Regions from separate parts of the Homo sapiens genome. Here region 1 is linked to region 2. Evidence: fine-mapped expression QTL. Tissue or cell type: subcutaneous fat. Region 2 holds a variant in brackets; the other region holds the start of a gene. All regions are shown on one strand. Distances are between the middles of the regions. Region 1 holds the start of ELAC2 (elaC ribonuclease Z 2). Region 2 overlaps ARHGAP44 (Rho GTPase activating protein 44).

Region 1 (8,326 bases), 26 kb after region 2:
CCAGCCTGGTAAGAAAGCAAGACTCTATCCAAAAAAAAAAAAAAAAAAAAAAATCTCGTGGTGATGAAGCATTTGATTTTGAGGTTTGATGTTGATGTTTTTAATGGATTCTAATTTGAGAGGTCAGGGCATATATAAGTTAGAAATAGCAGAGGATGAGTCACAGACAAAGACGTACCCAGTTCTATTCCTTTCAATGGACCAGAAAATATTTTGATTGCTTCGAGGTATTTTTCCTAATGAAAAACAAAGAAATGAGCAGTTATGGTTGAACAAATGTAGAACACAGCAACTATTCAAGTATTTAAAAGGTTACCAATAGGTATCAACATAAAACAAAGCTTAGTAAATATTTTGAACATCATTTATTACAAATATTTACTGAGTATCCATTATATCAGATGCCAAGGATATAGCAGGAAAAAGAGATGGAGGCCTTGCTCTAATCAGGCCAGTGGAGGAGACAAAAGGAAACACGATAACAGAAACAGCTTAGTGGCATTATGCTAAGTGCTCTGCAAGGAAAATGAAAAATACAGAAGGCTGGGATCCAACTTGTCTAGAGAAGAAGAGGCAGTTCTGGAGTAAATGACCCTCTAGCTGAGCCCTGAAGGTTCAGTAACAATATAGGCAGCAATTAGAAGAGGCAGAGGGAACCCGCGGAAGGGCGAAAGTCCTGAAGTGGCCAGGGAGTTAGAGGGACATAAGAGTCAGCCCATGCAGCTGCAGTTCAGCGATGGGTACAGATGGAAGTGTGGGTAGCGGCCGGGGCCTACAGGACTTGTAGGCCATATCAAGGTGTTTTGATTGTATTGCAATGGGGAGCCCATGAAGGGCTTTAGGGTGGCAAGTGACACACTACTTTTCTGTCTTGAAGTGACCTCTCTGGCTGCTGTGTGGCAGATGGATTACAGGAAGGCGAGAATGAATATGGGAGGCTATTGTAGTTTACAGGCATAGAAAACAGAAATAAGGAAGGCCTCAATAAGAGACAAATGGATGGATTTCAAACGTTATTTTGGGGAAAGACTTAACAGGTCTTGGTGACTTTCTTCTTAAGGACTGGAAAATGAACTGTTATATTCAACAACACACACACGCCTTCTCAAGAGTGTAATAAGCTGGACTGAAAGGTAAGAAGATGTCAGAAATTTATTGAATAAAAACAAAAGCTGCCCTTTCTTGTGTGCCTACTTGGTGCCAAACATATATCTAATAAAGTGATTTAGTGCTTTATATGTGCTGCTACGTCATTTAATCTTTAACAACTCTATGAAACGTGATAGTCATCTTATAGATGAATAAACTAAAGCTCAGAAAGGTAAAGTAACTTGATCAAGGTCACATAGTTAATCAGAACTCAAGTCTTTTTAACTTGAAAGGGGAAGCGTTTCAACGACCAGGTATCTCTGGAGGGCAGAAGACTGATTTGCAAAAAGGAAAATTCTTGTTACTGATATTACAAAAGGAAAGATTGCTTTTGAAAGATGTGTCAGGAAAGACTCACCAGTTGTGGAGGTCCAGAAAGTACACACTTTGGAAGCCCGGTTTCCTTTAAAGTAAGAATCATTCCTAAAAAGGATGCATAAAATCAGATCTCTCATCAATTTGACCTGTCGTCACTAACAGGAGGAGCACCCCGTACTAATCCAACTATTTATCTACATCTCCACCTTCCAGCTTTGGAAGTACAACCAGGGAAGATGTACAGAGCAGAAGTGATGCCAGCTAGAGGTGTAACAGACACCAAATATTCTTTAAATGCCTCTAGAATGGGCTGAGCTGTCACTAGGGTGAAGCAGCAAGGCACCCAGTGTGCAAAATGTAAGGAATCATGCAAGTGAAGGGCTGGCACCCTAAGTGCCTCACCCTAGTCTCAGCCCTGAGAAGGGAGACTGGTCTAACACTTCACTCCTTCCGGTCCATGCCACCAAGCCCACACAATTTGGCTGCAACACAATCCTGACCTTCCGGTTGATAGACATAAATGACAGGGTAATCTGGACAGTGGGTATGTGTGTGGCTGCCAATGTGCCAATGGCGTCTGCGGTAAACATATTAACTGTAATCACCACTGCTAGACTCTCCAGTTTACTGCCACAAATCTCTGTCCCCGCAACGCAAGAAACTAAGTGGATGGTAACACTTAAGAGGTGGTATCCATATTAAAATCTGTTCTCCTGAGTCACAGCTTTTAATGCTCTGTGCTGCTGCTGACTGGGCTGGTATAAAAAGAATTCCAGGCCAGGTGCGGTGGCTCATGCCTGTAATCCCAGCACTCTGGGAGGCCGAGACAGGAGGATCGCAGAAGTTTGAGACCAGCCTGGGCAACATAGCAAAACCCCGTCGCTACAAAACATACAAAAAAAATTAGCCAGGTGTGATGGGGCACACGTGTGGTCCCAGCTATTTGGGAGGCTGAGGTGAGGGGATCACCTGAGCCCAGAAGGCAAAGGTTGCAGTGAGCCAAGATCACGCCACTGACAAAAAAAAAAAAAAAAAAAAAAGTAGCTGCCCACCCCAGACTTGGAAAAATGGTAAAGCCGGTTAAAATCCCAGAGACTTCCCACCAGCCTCTGACACTGCAAAGAATATACTCACCACTTAAGCCCCCAACATTAGACCAGTGCATTCGTGTCAGGAATATGTTGTCCAGGCGAGCAACCTTTAACCTAAGAATGAAAAAACATTTAAACAGGATAACATGAACAGAACAAGGACCACTTTTGCTATAAAAAACAACTGGCCTCTCATTTCGGCTTTCAAGCCCCGTAATCAACTCCCCCTCCGAAAGCAAGAGACTGACTCACTTGTGCTCCTGCATGAGTCTCTGAACGCCTTCTCCACAGTTGAAGAGATACCTACAAGACAAACATTACACAAGACATTCAGAAGGTTTTATTCTGTAAACTCTCTGACACCAATTAGATGTTTTATTGTAGACTCTGGAAAAAAAAAAAAGAAAAAAAAATTAAAAGTCCACGTTGGACTACCGAGCCACATTTATGCTGGTGGGTTTTGAGCCCTCCTTAGCAGAGGTGGAGAGGAGTGGGGGCCTGTGTGTGTGGGTGCTAGGACAAAATGAGTCCTTTCTCCACCACCGGCTACACACCAGATCTGTCCACCCCACACGCTAACAACGACACACTGGCCTTGGGGTGCACGGAAGAGGGTGGAGCTCCGAAAGTGCTGACAGCCAGGCCGGGGCCCAAGGGTTGGGAAAAGGACGCTCAGACCCAGGCCTGAAGTTCTTCACAGATCCGCAGAAATCACATGGATGCAAAGAATCTCGGATTTCCCACCCACCATAACTCCACGAACCCCCGCAACAGTGAACCACATGTGTGAAGCAGGGAAGCCGAAGCCCTGGGAGGTGCCCCGATGCTCAGAGGCTGCGCCGCACTGAGGGCCCAGCGGGACGGGGCGTGGCTCGTTGACTGACCGGTTGAACTCGGAGAAGACGTAGAGCGCGGCGCCCGAGTCCCGGCTACCCGCTGCCACCACCTGCAGGTACACGGTGTTTGGGCCGCCGGAGCACCCCGACGGTCCGCGCTTCTCTCGCGTGCGCAGGTGCCGCAGCGGGTCCTTGCGCGGCCGCTCGCGGCGGGCGGGTGCCTGCGATATGGTGCGTCCCTGCGACATGGTGCGTCCGGCCGCGGACCGCAGCAGCGAGCAAAGCGCCCACATGCGCCCGTCTCCACCAAAACTGAGAAAGCCGCCGGTCACCTACGCCCGCGTTTCCCGTGCACCACCTAGCCGCTCCGCATGGCGGATCCAGCCAATCAGCGCGCCGTGCACCGAGCTTCCCGCCTACGCGAGGCTGCTCATCCAATAGAAAGGAGCTTTACCGCTCGGGACTTGTCAATTGACAGTGGCCATAGAGTAGAGGAATACTAGAGCGTCTCAAGCGGCCCCGCCCCTAGTTCTGTTCCGGTTTGCCGGCCGCAATTTTTTCCGGAAGCTGTTTTTCTCCTGGGGCGGGACTTCCGGAAGCACAGTGCCAGGAAAAGCCTTCCTGGGGAAGGCGGGACCTAGGAGTTTGGAGTTTCGCTAAAACGCTCCTGTTCTCACCAGATAAGAGCTGTGTCCTCCGGGCACGTCAGTCCCTCAGAGCTTGAGTTAGAGGTGGTTGTAGTGGTTGTGAGGATTAAATGTGAGGAAATCAATTGTATTGAGCATTAGCATAAGCGCTTTGCTAATTTTATTTCCATTGTAATTCGTATGCATACATGTTAGAACTTGATCATTTTTACGTGGTGTCCCGAGCTTGTAGTCCCAGCTACTTGGGAGGCTGAGGCAGGAGAATCGCTTAAGCGCGGAGGCGGAGGTTGCGGTGAGTCGAAATCGCGCCACTGCACTCCAGCCTGGGTGACACCTCGAGACCCTGTCTCAAAACAAAACAAAACAAAACAAAAATTGTAGTGTTTTTTGGAAAGAAAAGCAAGAATAGAGGACAAGCTCTAAAGCAAGAGTCTTGGCTCATTTGTTAGCTGCGTGATCTTGACCTCTCAGAGCCTCAGCTTTCTTATGTGTAAAATGTAATAACAGCAATAACAGTATCTCCTACTTCAGAATATAGAATTCAGTCACCTGATAATATATCAATAGACCTTTGAGTGGCACTGTCACAGAAGAGGCACCCAGTAAATGATAGAAAATTAATACAAAATGTTTCAACTCCTAGACAATATAGCTGACCAGGGACATCACAGAGGTAGATGTCCCAATACCAGCTTTTTGAAAAAAACACCCAGTCCCCTCTTATGTAGCTAATGAGGATTTCTCACTGAAAGGGATATCAGTTAAAGCCGCTAGAAATACAGGGAGCTCCCTTAAAAGAGGAAGATAATTTACCTGGAAGCTCCACTCAAATATGATTTTTTAAAGATAATTTACCTGGAAGCTCCACTGACATATGATTTTTTTAAATAAATACTGAAAGATGTCACTTTTATTCAGGAAGTAAGGGAGATTCAAGTCATGTAGATTCCTACTCGAAAATCTTGACACCTGACTTTCCAGGATCACATTTTCATATGGAGACCAGTTTCCTCTTGGTTTCTTCAGTTAAGTCAAAACTACACGTTCCTCTTTCCCCATATATTTTTGCTCATTAGTGTATTTCTTGAGCTGTTTTCATTCAAATATGAAATTTTTTATGGAAGATTATCACCCACGGTGTGAAAACGTTTTGTACTTGAAATAACCATCCCAGTGAGGGTCAGGAAAACACTTCAGATCTACTTTACACAGTTAGAGGGCGTTACAAACTGAAAAGATTATCATACCACCATCTCCATAAGTATTTGAAATAAAAATGATAGTTTTTAAAAGTTGCTTAAAGCCTGGGCACCGTGGCACATATCTGTAATCCCAGCACTTTGGGAGGCCAAGGCGGGAGAATAGCTTCAGGCTAGTAGTTCAAAACCTGCTCTGTGGCCAGGCATGGTGGCTTATGCCTGTAATCCCAGCACTTTGGGAGGCCGAGGCAGGTGGATCACCTGAGGTCAGGAGTTCGAGACCAGCCTGGCCAACATGATGAAACCCCGTCTCTACTAAAAACACAAAAATTAGCCGGGAGTGGTTGCATGGGCCTGTAATCCCAGCTACTGGGGAGGTTGAGGCAGGAGAATCACTTGAACCCCAGAGACAGAGGTTGCAGTGAGCCAAGATCACACCATTGCACTCCAGCCTGGGTGACAGAGGGAGATTCCATCTCAAAAACAAACAAACAAACCAGCTCTGGCAACAAAGCGAGACCTCATCTCTACCAAAAAATACTAAAAAATTTAAAAATAAGTAAAAATTAGCTGGACATGGTGGCACACACCTGTTGTCCCAGCTACTCTGAAGGCTGAGACAGGAGGATCACATGAACCCAGGGGTTTGAGGCTGCAGTGAGCTATGATCATACCACTTTACTCCAGCCTGGCTGACAGAGTGAGACACTCTCTACAAAAAAAAAAAAAAAAAAAAAAGAAAAAGAAAATTAATTCATTAAAACTACTTTTAAAAAGTGTAGTGCAATAAATAAAATACTGATTTTTTTCCTGTGATGACTGCTTTGATCCTTTTAAAAAATATATCAAATTTCACAAACAAAAATACATTGGTTCCTCTATTTTATTGGTGCCCTATGTGCATATCTATCTGTTGGGTAATCTCAAACTACTTATCTCAAAATTATAGGAGGAATCACTTTTGGTCATCGACTTATATAAAATTCTGAGGGCTGGATGCTATTTAGGTTGTTTCTAGGGCCCAGTGTACTTTCTGCACTTATGCTTTGGGTCATATTTTTATTCCTGGTATATGAAGACAATAGCTAGTACTTCTTCAATCTGAGGTTATACTGGAATGTAAATTTCATGAGCCTGGGATTTGTCTATCTGGTCCTCTGCTGTATCATTAGCTCCTAGGACAGAGTCTGGCTTGTGGCAGACAATAAATACTAGGAAATTAGAAGCAAGCCAGTAGCTTAAATGAGGTTTTCAGTTTACAACTAAGCAGGGCCTAAAATTGAATCAAGACAACAATGTATGTGTTTTCTGAAGGGGATTGGTGTGACTGGTACCTCCAAAAGGATAGTTCAGAGAGTCTGAAACAGAAAAGTGTCTCTGGACTTGCTGGAGTAGAGGCAGCCTGACCATCGGGACAGCAGAGAAAGTGGAAATCGAGGCGACAGACTTTCAGAAGTCAGTGATATTAACAATTAATATAATACAGCCACTTCCTCTTGCTTTGAGTCTCTTTTTGTTATCCATTTTGTATATGGGCAGCTTGTGGCTTGAAATCACTTTCAGTCCTTTTGTTGGTCACGGTTGTGTTTAGTAAGAATAGCCTGTCTCTGCTCCTTGCAGTGGCTGCTGGGTGGCTCAATGGGAGTGGAACCTCACACTCACAGGTGTGGGTCCTGGGTACTGGCCCTGCTGGGGGTGCTTTGGTTCATTTCCCATTGCCTCTCCATCCATGTAGACTGTCCACATTCAGTAGTTAGGCTGAGCTTCTCTGAATGGTGGTCAGCCTCCAAAAGGATGAAATGAAATTGCAATGCTTCTGAAGAATTAGGCCCAGAAGTCAACGCAAGACACAGACAGCACCCACCTAGATTCAAAGGGAGGAAAATTATATTCTACCTCTTGAGGGGAGAAGTATCAAAGTCACATTGCAAAAGAGCCCTTGACGTGGAAAAGTCCAGGCTTTCTTGGAACCCTCTGATTATCCTACGGGGGGGTCCTATGAAGAGATGGCTGCCAGGCAGAATAATCTGGCCAATGAATGCTGGGAGCAGTACATTTTCATATGCCTGTAGTTACAAAGGTATAATTTATAACTTGACTTTCTTCTGTACACGCTTGTAAGTATGGTTGCCATAAGCTAGTCCACTCATATGTGGCCATCTCTTGGGTATATTTATAAATCAGACTTTTGTACCTACAAAGCTGGGGCAGTTCCTGCGATCCCCAAGATCTGGTGATCTGACCAAGGGACACATACTTTGGGACCCTGTCTGAAATACCCTCTGGCTTTCTCCACACAGACATTCATTCATTGATTCATTCAGTACACTCACACACACACACACACGAGTTTCTAGACACTCTTCTAGGGTTCTAGATGCTGTACTAAGACCTTGGTGTACAGAAAGATGAACAAGGTCTTGCTCTCAGAAAGCTCAGAAAGTTGGTGTCTTGGGCACAGGGATGGGGCCCCAGGGCACACAGGAAAACATTATAATAGATGCTTTTGTCTTCATTGGGTCTGAGGTGTTTCTGGTTTAGAGCCCTAGAAACCCAACAACTCCAAACTTGATGGCCACAATGCATCAGAGGGATAATTGGTTTTTGAAACAAAAGTTACTTTGGGCTGGGCACGATGGCTCACAACTGTAATCCCAGCACTTTGGGAGGCCCAGGCGGGTGGATGACTTGAGGTCAGGAGTTTGAGACCAGCCTGGCCAACATGGCGAAACCCCGTCTCCACTAAAAATACAAAAATTAGCTAGGCGTGGTGGTGGGCACCCGTAACCCCAGCTGCTCAGGAGGCTAAGGCAGGAGAATCACTTGAACCCGGGAGGCGGAGGTTGCAGTGAGCCAAGATCGTGCCATTGCACTCCAGCCTGGGCAACAGAGCGAGACTCAGTCTCAAAAAAAAAAAAAAAGTCTGCAGTCACGTACAGCAATGTCCTAGACCTTCACATTCACTCACTGATGCACCCCAGGCAACTTACAATCCTGCAAGTTCCATTCATGGTAAGTGCCTTATTCAGGTGCTAATTTCTTTCTTTCTCTCTTTCTTTCTTTCTTTCTTTCTTTCTTTCTTTCTT
Region 2 (8,291 bases):
AGGCACAGGGAAGGTAGGAAACTTGTCCAAGGTCATGCTCTTCCTGCCTGACATATTTGGGATTTTTGAATCTAAGCAGGGGAGCTTGGTGCTCTTACCTGATAGCGAACCCTGCACAGTGAGGTGGGCCCCGGGCCACTCAGCCTCACACCTGTGTAGAGACATGACCCAAGTAGCTGGGGAAGGGCAGAGGTGGGTCTGAGGCCACCTGCTTCAGAGGAACAAGTGGCACTGGCTGTTCCTCCAGCCCCACGCCCCAAATCTCTGCTTCTCCATCAGGCAGCAAAACAAAGACTGGAAGGACGTGAGGGCTGCCTGGGGGTTGGGGCAAGGGAGGACCTTTGTTCAAGAGCTTCCATGTTTGTATGATGTCTTTCAGGACAGTGTCCAAATGTATGTCTGTACACTTAGTATGGTATTCCCCAGTCTGAACATGTGTTCCCTTCCTCTGCCTCCTGGAGTGCTGCTCCCAGCCTTGCAAAGCTAAGTGACGGCCAGAAACTAAGCAGGCAGGCCGGGCGTGGTTGCTCACGCCTGTAATCCCAAAACTTTGGGAGGCTGAAGTGGGTGAATCACCTGAGGTCATGAGTTCGAGACCAGCCTGGCCAACATGGTGAAACCCAATCTCTACTAAAAACACCAAAAAAAAAAAAAAAAAAAAAATTAGCCGGGCATGGTGGTGGGTGCCTGTAATCCCAGCTACTCGGGAGGCTGAGGCAGGAGAATCGCTTGAACCCAGGAGGCAGAGGTTGCAGTGAGCCGAGATTGTGCCATTGCACTCCAGTCTGTGTGACAAGAGCGAAACTCCACCCCCCCCAAAAAAAAAAAAAAAAAAAAAAAACTAAGCAGGCGGAGGAAGGGGACAGCATGACGAGAGTAAAGGACCCAGGGGATCTGTGGTTTTCTGGCTCTCTGGCTGTAGCACATCCTGGAGGAGTCAGCAAGCACAGCCTCGTCAGTGTCCCCCAGGGCGGCGGCTGCAGCAGCAAGGGGATTTTTTTTAACGTGGTGTGGCAAAGAGGCTTCGTGTCCACTCAGCTGCCAGTCTAAGGACTTCTGTCGTCTTTGCCGACTCAGAGACGTCCAGACACTGAGCTGTTATTTCAAGTACATTTCTCCTGTTCATCTTGCCGGGAAAAATGACCTTTTAATGCTCCTAATAAATAAGGATGTAACCAGAGGTGGGGGTTGTCCTGCAGTCAGGGACAGTTGGCACCAATGACAACCAGGGTCCTGAGGGAGACCTTCTACTCCACCCATGTCAGCCATCCAAAATGCAGCTGTTTCTTAGAGTGAGGACACTGGCTCAGGGTTCCCCATTCTCTCACAGGCTTGAGAGGAGAAAGGGGTCCACTGTCTCACGTCCTGTCCCTGCAGATTCTGGGGAATGAAATGCAGTCGTCTGATATAGATCCCCAAAAAGGTGTCATTGAGACCTACTCAGCATCCTTCTTATCAAGAATAAAGGACCCTGTGGCTTGGCAGGGGAGTGCTGTTCTGGCCTTCCTCTGAACCACAGTGGCGTATCCTGGGTGCTTTGGTTCTACGAACTTATGGGGTAGAAGCAAAGCAGGCATGAGCACAACCTGATCGACTGTGCAACACAATGCTTAAACCAACCTCCAAATGATCTATCCCTAGAATAGCAGCACCCCTGCCTCCTAAGGCTGACATTATTTGCCTACAACTAGGTTCTCATTTGCCGGGAAGCCTCCTTTCAACCACCTCTCTCTCTGCCGCCTTCCAGATCTTGTCCACTTTGATATTCCCTCGATCCACATAGAGCTCGGGTCGACGCTCCGCCTGAGTCCCCTGGAGCACATGCGGCGACACTCAGTAACTGACAAGAGGGACTCGGAGGAGGAGTCTGAGAGCACCGCCCTCTGACATGACACCGCCCATCCTGCCTCGCGTGTACATACATCACGGGCCCTAGGAACGCCGCCAGGAGCAGCGTCCATGAGCTTGCCAAGTGTTCTCTGCTGGCTCTTTCCTGCCACTGCCAACACGAGGTTGGAATTTGGCAGAAAATTGTGATCTCCAGTCCGTGTGGTGATGCTGGTGGTGCAGGTTTTGTTTGTTCCTTTCGGGTGGTGACTTCGGCCTTTTGTTTGACCTTTGCCTTTTGACTTTGTGCCTCTTTTGATCCACTTTCAGCCTCCATGCCAGAAAACACCCACCTCTCCATCCAAGGCTGGTCAGGAACGTCCTTTGCAGGGTCGGGGTGGTGCGGGAGAGGCTCACTTTGCCTGGTTAGACCCAAGGGCTGCTACCTTTTCCTTGGACGGCTCATGTCAGGTCTTGCAGGATCAGTTTAATGGCCACAGAAAGGAAGCAGGACAGCAGGGCCCCTCTCACCCACAACTGGACCAGGTCCAGGATTCTAGCAGTCCTGGGGCACTGACCTTTGCCAGCTACCTGGGGGAGGGCTTGCCACTGGAAAACCTTTCAGGCCGCCCCCATCAGTGGGCTCCAAAGTAAATGGCTGAAAACAAAAATGTTTCACTTCCTAACAGTTTTCCTTTTTCCACTGTGTGACTGAAAGCTCCTATATCATTTTATATTTCTGAATCTATAAAACAAAACAAACAAGCCTGACAGTGTCTGGAGGAGCCAAAGGTGGCCTCCCTGTCCCCAAATATATTGGCTATATGAGAGTAATTTTACCCCTCTACGTACCTAAAGGCACCCAGTTCACTAGTCTGTGGGGTCCTGGAGCCTGTCTCTTCTTTCTGGAGGTTCAAACTGAATAGCAATAATTACGTTACCCAAAGCATGTGGAGGAAAAGTGAAACCAGCCACGGAGACGCTGGCCCACGGGCTCGGCCTGCGGTGTGGCCTGCTTTGCTCACCAGCGTCAGCCGCTCATTTCCTTCTCATGAAGTCCCATCTGGTCATGGGGACGAGGGCCGGGAGGGCACCGGGTAGCCTTTTCACACTTGGGGATTAGGGGAGTGAGAAAAGATTTGGGCCATGCATGCAAAGTCAAAGTTTAAAATTTTATCCTTTTCAAATAGATGATATAATATACCTATACATGATATAATATTTGTATATATGAAATCTCTCTATATTTGTTTAATTTGAGCCATTCAATCTAAACCAATGTACAGGTGTACAATGAAAAATTTAAATGCTTAGTTATTTTTCCCAACACAGTGTAAAGTCACCCTCCTCTGAGAGTGGGATGTGCAGAGTTTTGATGTTGCAGCTTTGCTCACTTCCTGGCAAGGGCAGGTCATGCCTCAATTTGTAATGGGAGTCTGGGGTAAGGGTGGGGGTTGAAAGTTGTTATCTTTAAATACATGTACAAATCGTTGTCAAAAGTAACGTTATTAAAATAGATTTATTATCCCTGAGCTTGGCATCTGTTCTTGCTTTAATAAACCTGCGGGGACATGGCCGTCAATCTCAAATGCACACCGGGATGGAGCCTGAAGGTCACCACCTGTGTAAAGCCAGGTCCCTGGCTGATCTCTCGCTTGCTTGTCTTTTGAGTTTTTAAAGCTCTTCTTTTTACATTCTCCTGGGTAGGGAATATACACAATAAATACTAGATTCAACTTACTTACTTACTTACTTACTTTACTTACTTACTTCCTTGGAAAATGCTCTCCATTTGTCGAGCACTAATCCACGTCTGTAAATCCCGCAAGGAGGACAATGGAAACCAGCCCCGTGTGCCATTTCTCAAAACCTTCGAGGGCAAAGTGATCCTCACTCCTCTCAGTATGGAAGCAACAACACAGCAAATCTATTGTCTCCACTTTTACCCAGAACCACCAGAAGACTTGCATTTCCCTGACCAATGACACCAGCCCAGCCAGGCTCTCACTGATTGATTTGATTGATTGATTGATTGATTGATAGAGAAAGCACGCCCTGCTGTGAGCTGGCACAGCTCGAGTTGTCAAAAAGACTTGGCGAATAAGGGTGGCTCTCTGAGGACAGGTTCCAGAGGTGCTCACTACGACGGGAGCTGACTTCTTCCAAGCCACCCGGGTACCAGGCAGCTGCCACACTACAGCACAGAGAGCCTTCTCCAAGGTGGTGCACAGCAGACCCTGCTCTGTAGCAGCAGCAGGAGGAAGCAAAAGAACTCACAATTGCAAACTCAATCTTTATTGCAGCTGAAATACTATTTTCGTTAAGTCTCGGACACTTAGACCCACTGATCCTGTTACTCTGCTTGTCTCTGGTGTGCAGGGAATCACTTTGCTGGATTAGAGGAAAGGTGCCGCCGTCTGTTTCCAAGACTTCTTTAAAAACTGCCTTGAAATGAAATTAGTTCATCTGCTTGCTTCCGTGTGGCAGCCTCCTGGCCCGCGGCTGTGCCAGGCACCAGTCCTAAGAGGCATCTATAGACTAGTGCTTATGTGGGAGCCCAAGCCTCGGCACAGCTCCATACCACCTATCCTGAGCTGCCTCCTGGGGGACCGTGCTCTTCAGCTTCTACCAGCAAGGAGGGCAGATACGGGTGCGTGCGTGGGGCAGAAGACACACAGCCTTCTGAGTTCAGGGTCTCCCAGATCTTCACTGGGCTCTGACCTTCTTGGCCTGTGGCTCCTCTGTGTGGGCCCGCTTCTGCTGAGGCTCCCCATCCTCCAGGCCGCCTGCCAGCTCCCTGGACAGGAGGGCCGCCCGCACCTGCCGCAGCTCCCGCTTCTCCCTGCGCTCCTCCATCTCCTCGATGTCGCCAGCAAACAGGGCTTTCAGTGGGGGAATCAGCTTGGGCATTGTTGGAAAGTCTCCAAAGCAGACCTAGAAGACACAATAGAAGACAAGGACATGTCTCAGAGGGGCAGGGGTGGGGGACAGGAGCTGGAAGGGATGCAGTCATGTGCTCACACAGCAGCGCCAACGCCCCTTCCTTGGCACAAGCCAACAGGCCACAGCTGAAATGGAAAAAAGAATGGCATGGAGGGAACCCTCTAAAGGGGCAGAGGCTCCC[C/T]AGGCCTGGCTAAGGGCCTCCGGAGAGGGAAGGGAGAGCAGTCCAGATGCTCTCAAAATCAAGCTCCTGAAAAACGAGGCCTGGCTCCGGCTCTGCCCCTTCATTCCGGAAGGCCAAGGGTCAGGCCTGGCTTTCCCACTCACAAGAGGCAACCACCTGTCTCACAGGTCTGTGCTGAGGCTCAAATGCCATGACTGTGTGAGCAGTCCAGGCCTAAAAGGATTCTCAGAAATTTCCAGTGAACTGAGACTGAAGACTAGTTGGCCCCTGCAGGAGGTGGGTCTCACCAGCAAACCCAGGGTGGTTCGACCTGGTTAGTGATGGGTAGATAACCTTTTCCCACGGTGGCCCCAAATAAGAAAGCAAACTCCAGCTGACCGTCCTACTCAGTGTGTAGAGTCCTGTCTCCCTGCCCCGTCCCCGCCCTGTGCTGTCCGTGTGACATACAGACCTTCATGTGGTCAAAGGCAACTCCCACTTTCTCGCTGAAGTTGGGGCTGAAGAGGGGGACCTTGGCATAGCGCTGGCTGAAGTGGTTCAGCATAATGAACTCCGCGTTCATCCGCATCCCCACGCTGATGGCTTGGGACGTTGTGCTGCAGGTGAAGGACAGAGCAGACTGAAGCTGAACTCAACTGCAAGACTGCAAAGCAGACAGTGGCACAGACCCTGGCCATCAACTGCCAGGGCACCCGGGGAAGCTGGTGGGTTTTCTTAACGGGCACCTCCGTAGCCAGCACAATCTCCCCTGAGGGCCAGAGCCTTCGCACACACCCCTGGATGAAGCCCACCCTCTGTGCTGGCTGCCAAATCTGTCCATGAGGGCACCCAAGAGAAACCACAGGGCCCACCTGGGGTAATGCACTCTTTCGTTGAAATTAGCAGCCAAAAATTCAGTCCCCCAGCCCCCGCCTTCCCCTGGCAATTCCCTGACATGGCTTATAGTTTATTCAGCCGATTTCTAGATGCTTTCAAAAAACTGTGCCTCACTCTAGAATCTTGCTTAGAAAATTCTGCAAAAATAAAGGCCAAGAGCCTGTGAGCACTGCCACAGGTCAAGGAAGCCCCCATAGCCCTTGATAGGAAGCAGGGCAGCCCCACATCAGTGGAGACAAACGACGGCTGCTCAGTGTCACGTAGTGGGGGAGGGAGAGGATGTGGGCGACAAGGACTGACCGGCCTTTGCTACCTGTGTGTCTTTTCCACTGCTTCCTCTTCCAAACCATCTTCCAGGGTGGCTTCATGTATCAGGAGGGTGGCATCTTTCCCTGGAGAAGCAGCACAAGGATCAGGGCAGAGTTCTCTGCGAGAGCGGCACACAGGCCTCAGTCACGTGCTGTTTCCTGGTCTCAACACTCAGCTCCCCTGGCCCTGGGTCTGCCTACTAGGATGACAACCAGAGACTCTGAGGGTGGGGACCTGAGTCTCCTGCCTCTGCTGACGTTTCCCTGCAAGCCCACCTGCATTCACCTCCAGCTACACAAACCCCAGAGCAACCTCAGGGTGGCTTGCTTCTTCCTCTACTCACCCATCCGGACCAGAGCCTCGCAGGGCATGGTGTCCCCGGAATAGACCACTTTCCAGCCAGAGGTGTGCACCAGCGCACAGCCAAACGCATGCTTGCAGTGCCGCACCAGACAGGTCTGAAACTGAAAGGGTGGGGCTGGAGGGCTCTGCAGCTCTGCTCCCCACCTCGCCCCCATGATGCCTGCGGCTGTGCCCCTTACCTCTTCCAAATCACATGTTCGCAACAGCGAACTGATCAATCTTTCCACTGCAGGACTGGAGATCTCAGCCCCTTCCTGAAGGCATTTGGCAGGAATCATACTGTAAAAAGACAAAACATTTAAAATGATAATAAACGTTTCTTGGACATCTGGAACCAAAGTTTAAGTCTTTGGCTGGAGAACCCCAAAATCATTCTTAGGAGAAAACATGAGTTAAATCATAGTCACTATGATGAGGAAACAGCAGTCAAATATAAAGAGCCAAACCAAAGCCTCTAGGCCACTGGGAGAAACCCAGCAGGTGAATGCTGCCTCCGGCTCAGGCAGCACGGGCCACGGATGGCTCCAGCAGAGGGGACTCCTTCCCCTTGGGGTGAGGATGGTGCCACCTGCCAGCTAGCCACACACCTGCTATGGACATTCTCTGTGCTAGCCACTATTTGGGTGCTTGGCTCTGGAACTGTCTCATCAAGAAAAGCTGCTCGAAGTTTAGAAAGCAGCTCAGAACTCAAATGAGGACTGGGAAGAAATGCTTCTAAGAAAATAAGCATTACATGGGAACTATCTAATGGTTTCTGTCCTTCAGCCAATGCACTTCTCCCCTGCTTCTGCCATCTGGGACCATGTCAAGGGCAAGGCTGCTGGGGGATATTGGTAACTACCCCAGTGTCCACCTTGAGCTTCTGAAGGAGACGGCAGCAAGCAACAGCCCAGCGGGCCAGGCTGCCCTGGATGCTCACCTGATGTGGTGCAGGACCTCCTGGCACTGGTTGTGGTACTGCTGGAGCCAGGCTTTGAGCTGGTTGGGGGCAACCACCAGCAAAGGGTGAAGCGGCTTTCCCAAAGATGCCTGGAACAAAAAATGCAAGTGCCGACTCGACGACAGAACATCTCAATAAAAACTGGAGTGCCAAGAGGCATGGCGGATGATGTGTAAACCGCTGAAACTCAGAACGCCCATCAAGTGCCACACTTACCAAGGCGCGTTCTCTCTGCAGCAAGATACTTGGCAAGCCCTGGCAAGGAAACAGGAGACATGCGTCAGCCAGGCCCCAGGGCCATCCCCTCCGGGTTAGGGTCTGCAGCCCTCTCTCTTGCAGGAGTTGCCAGCCCGACGTCACCCACCAGCCTCTAACACAGCCGCAGTGGGGGTGGCACAGGCCGAGCCCCCTGCGCCATGGCCCTGAAATGTCACAGGCAGAAAGCGACACGACCCGTGCTGGGAAGAGGGCAACGGCCCAGGGCCCGGCACCCCAGGAGACCAAGGTGAGGGTCTCATAGCCACACCTCCTGCATCCGGTCAAAGCTTCCGCTGAGCAGGCCGTGTGAGATTCAAGACTCAAGGAAGGCTGGGTAAACTCAAACCTGTCCTGCTGCAGGAAAGGAACTGAACAGGAAGAGAAGACATTCTTGTGGCGCAGAAGGACTATGTTGAGTTTTGCAAAAAACCATTTCCTAGCCAGAGATGAGTAACAAAAGCTCTGGGCAAGTTTGGAAGCGGAGGAAAAGACGCAGCCAAAGGGCCAACTCAACGTGGCAGTGCCTCCTCCAGGCTCCAGCTTTGTGGTCCAGCCCAACACTCACCGTGTGGTGATCTGCGTGCAGGTGGGACA

Evidence for each region. PIP is the estimated chance that this variant, and not a neighbour inherited with it, causes the effect.
Region 1: it holds the start of ELAC2, and the variant in region 2 is fine-mapped to the expression of ELAC2 in subcutaneous fat (GTEx, PIP 0.99).

What each region holds. Positions count from the first base shown.
Region 1 is chr17:13,014,261-13,022,586 of GRCh38, forward strand. ELAC2 (elaC ribonuclease Z 2) reads right to left here and starts at 3,767. Exons shown (of 24, transcript NM_018127.7): 1 at 3,443-3,767; 2 at 2,811-2,861; 3 at 2,602-2,672; 4 at 1,508-1,572; 5 at 179-236. The coding sequence starts at 3,687. RefSeq lists enhancers at 3,083-3,583, 3,095-3,204, 3,225-3,284 and a silencer at 3,805-3,884.
Region 2 is chr17:12,988,285-12,996,575 of GRCh38, forward strand. It overlaps ARHGAP44 (Rho GTPase activating protein 44), which reads left to right. Exons shown (of 21, transcript NM_014859.6): 21 at 1,748-3,359. The coding sequence ends at 1,887. It overlaps ELAC2 (elaC ribonuclease Z 2), which reads right to left. Exons shown (of 24, transcript NM_018127.7): 17 at 8,263-8,291; 18 at 7,656-7,694; 19 at 7,419-7,528; 20 at 6,679-6,778; 21 at 6,480-6,600; 22 at 6,141-6,219; 23 at 5,403-5,547; 24 at 3,328-4,761. The coding sequence ends at 4,534. Among named protein-coding and RNA genes, the nearest start is that of ELAC2, 26 kb to the right of the region's middle. The variant C/T (reference allele first, on the strand shown) is at 4,952.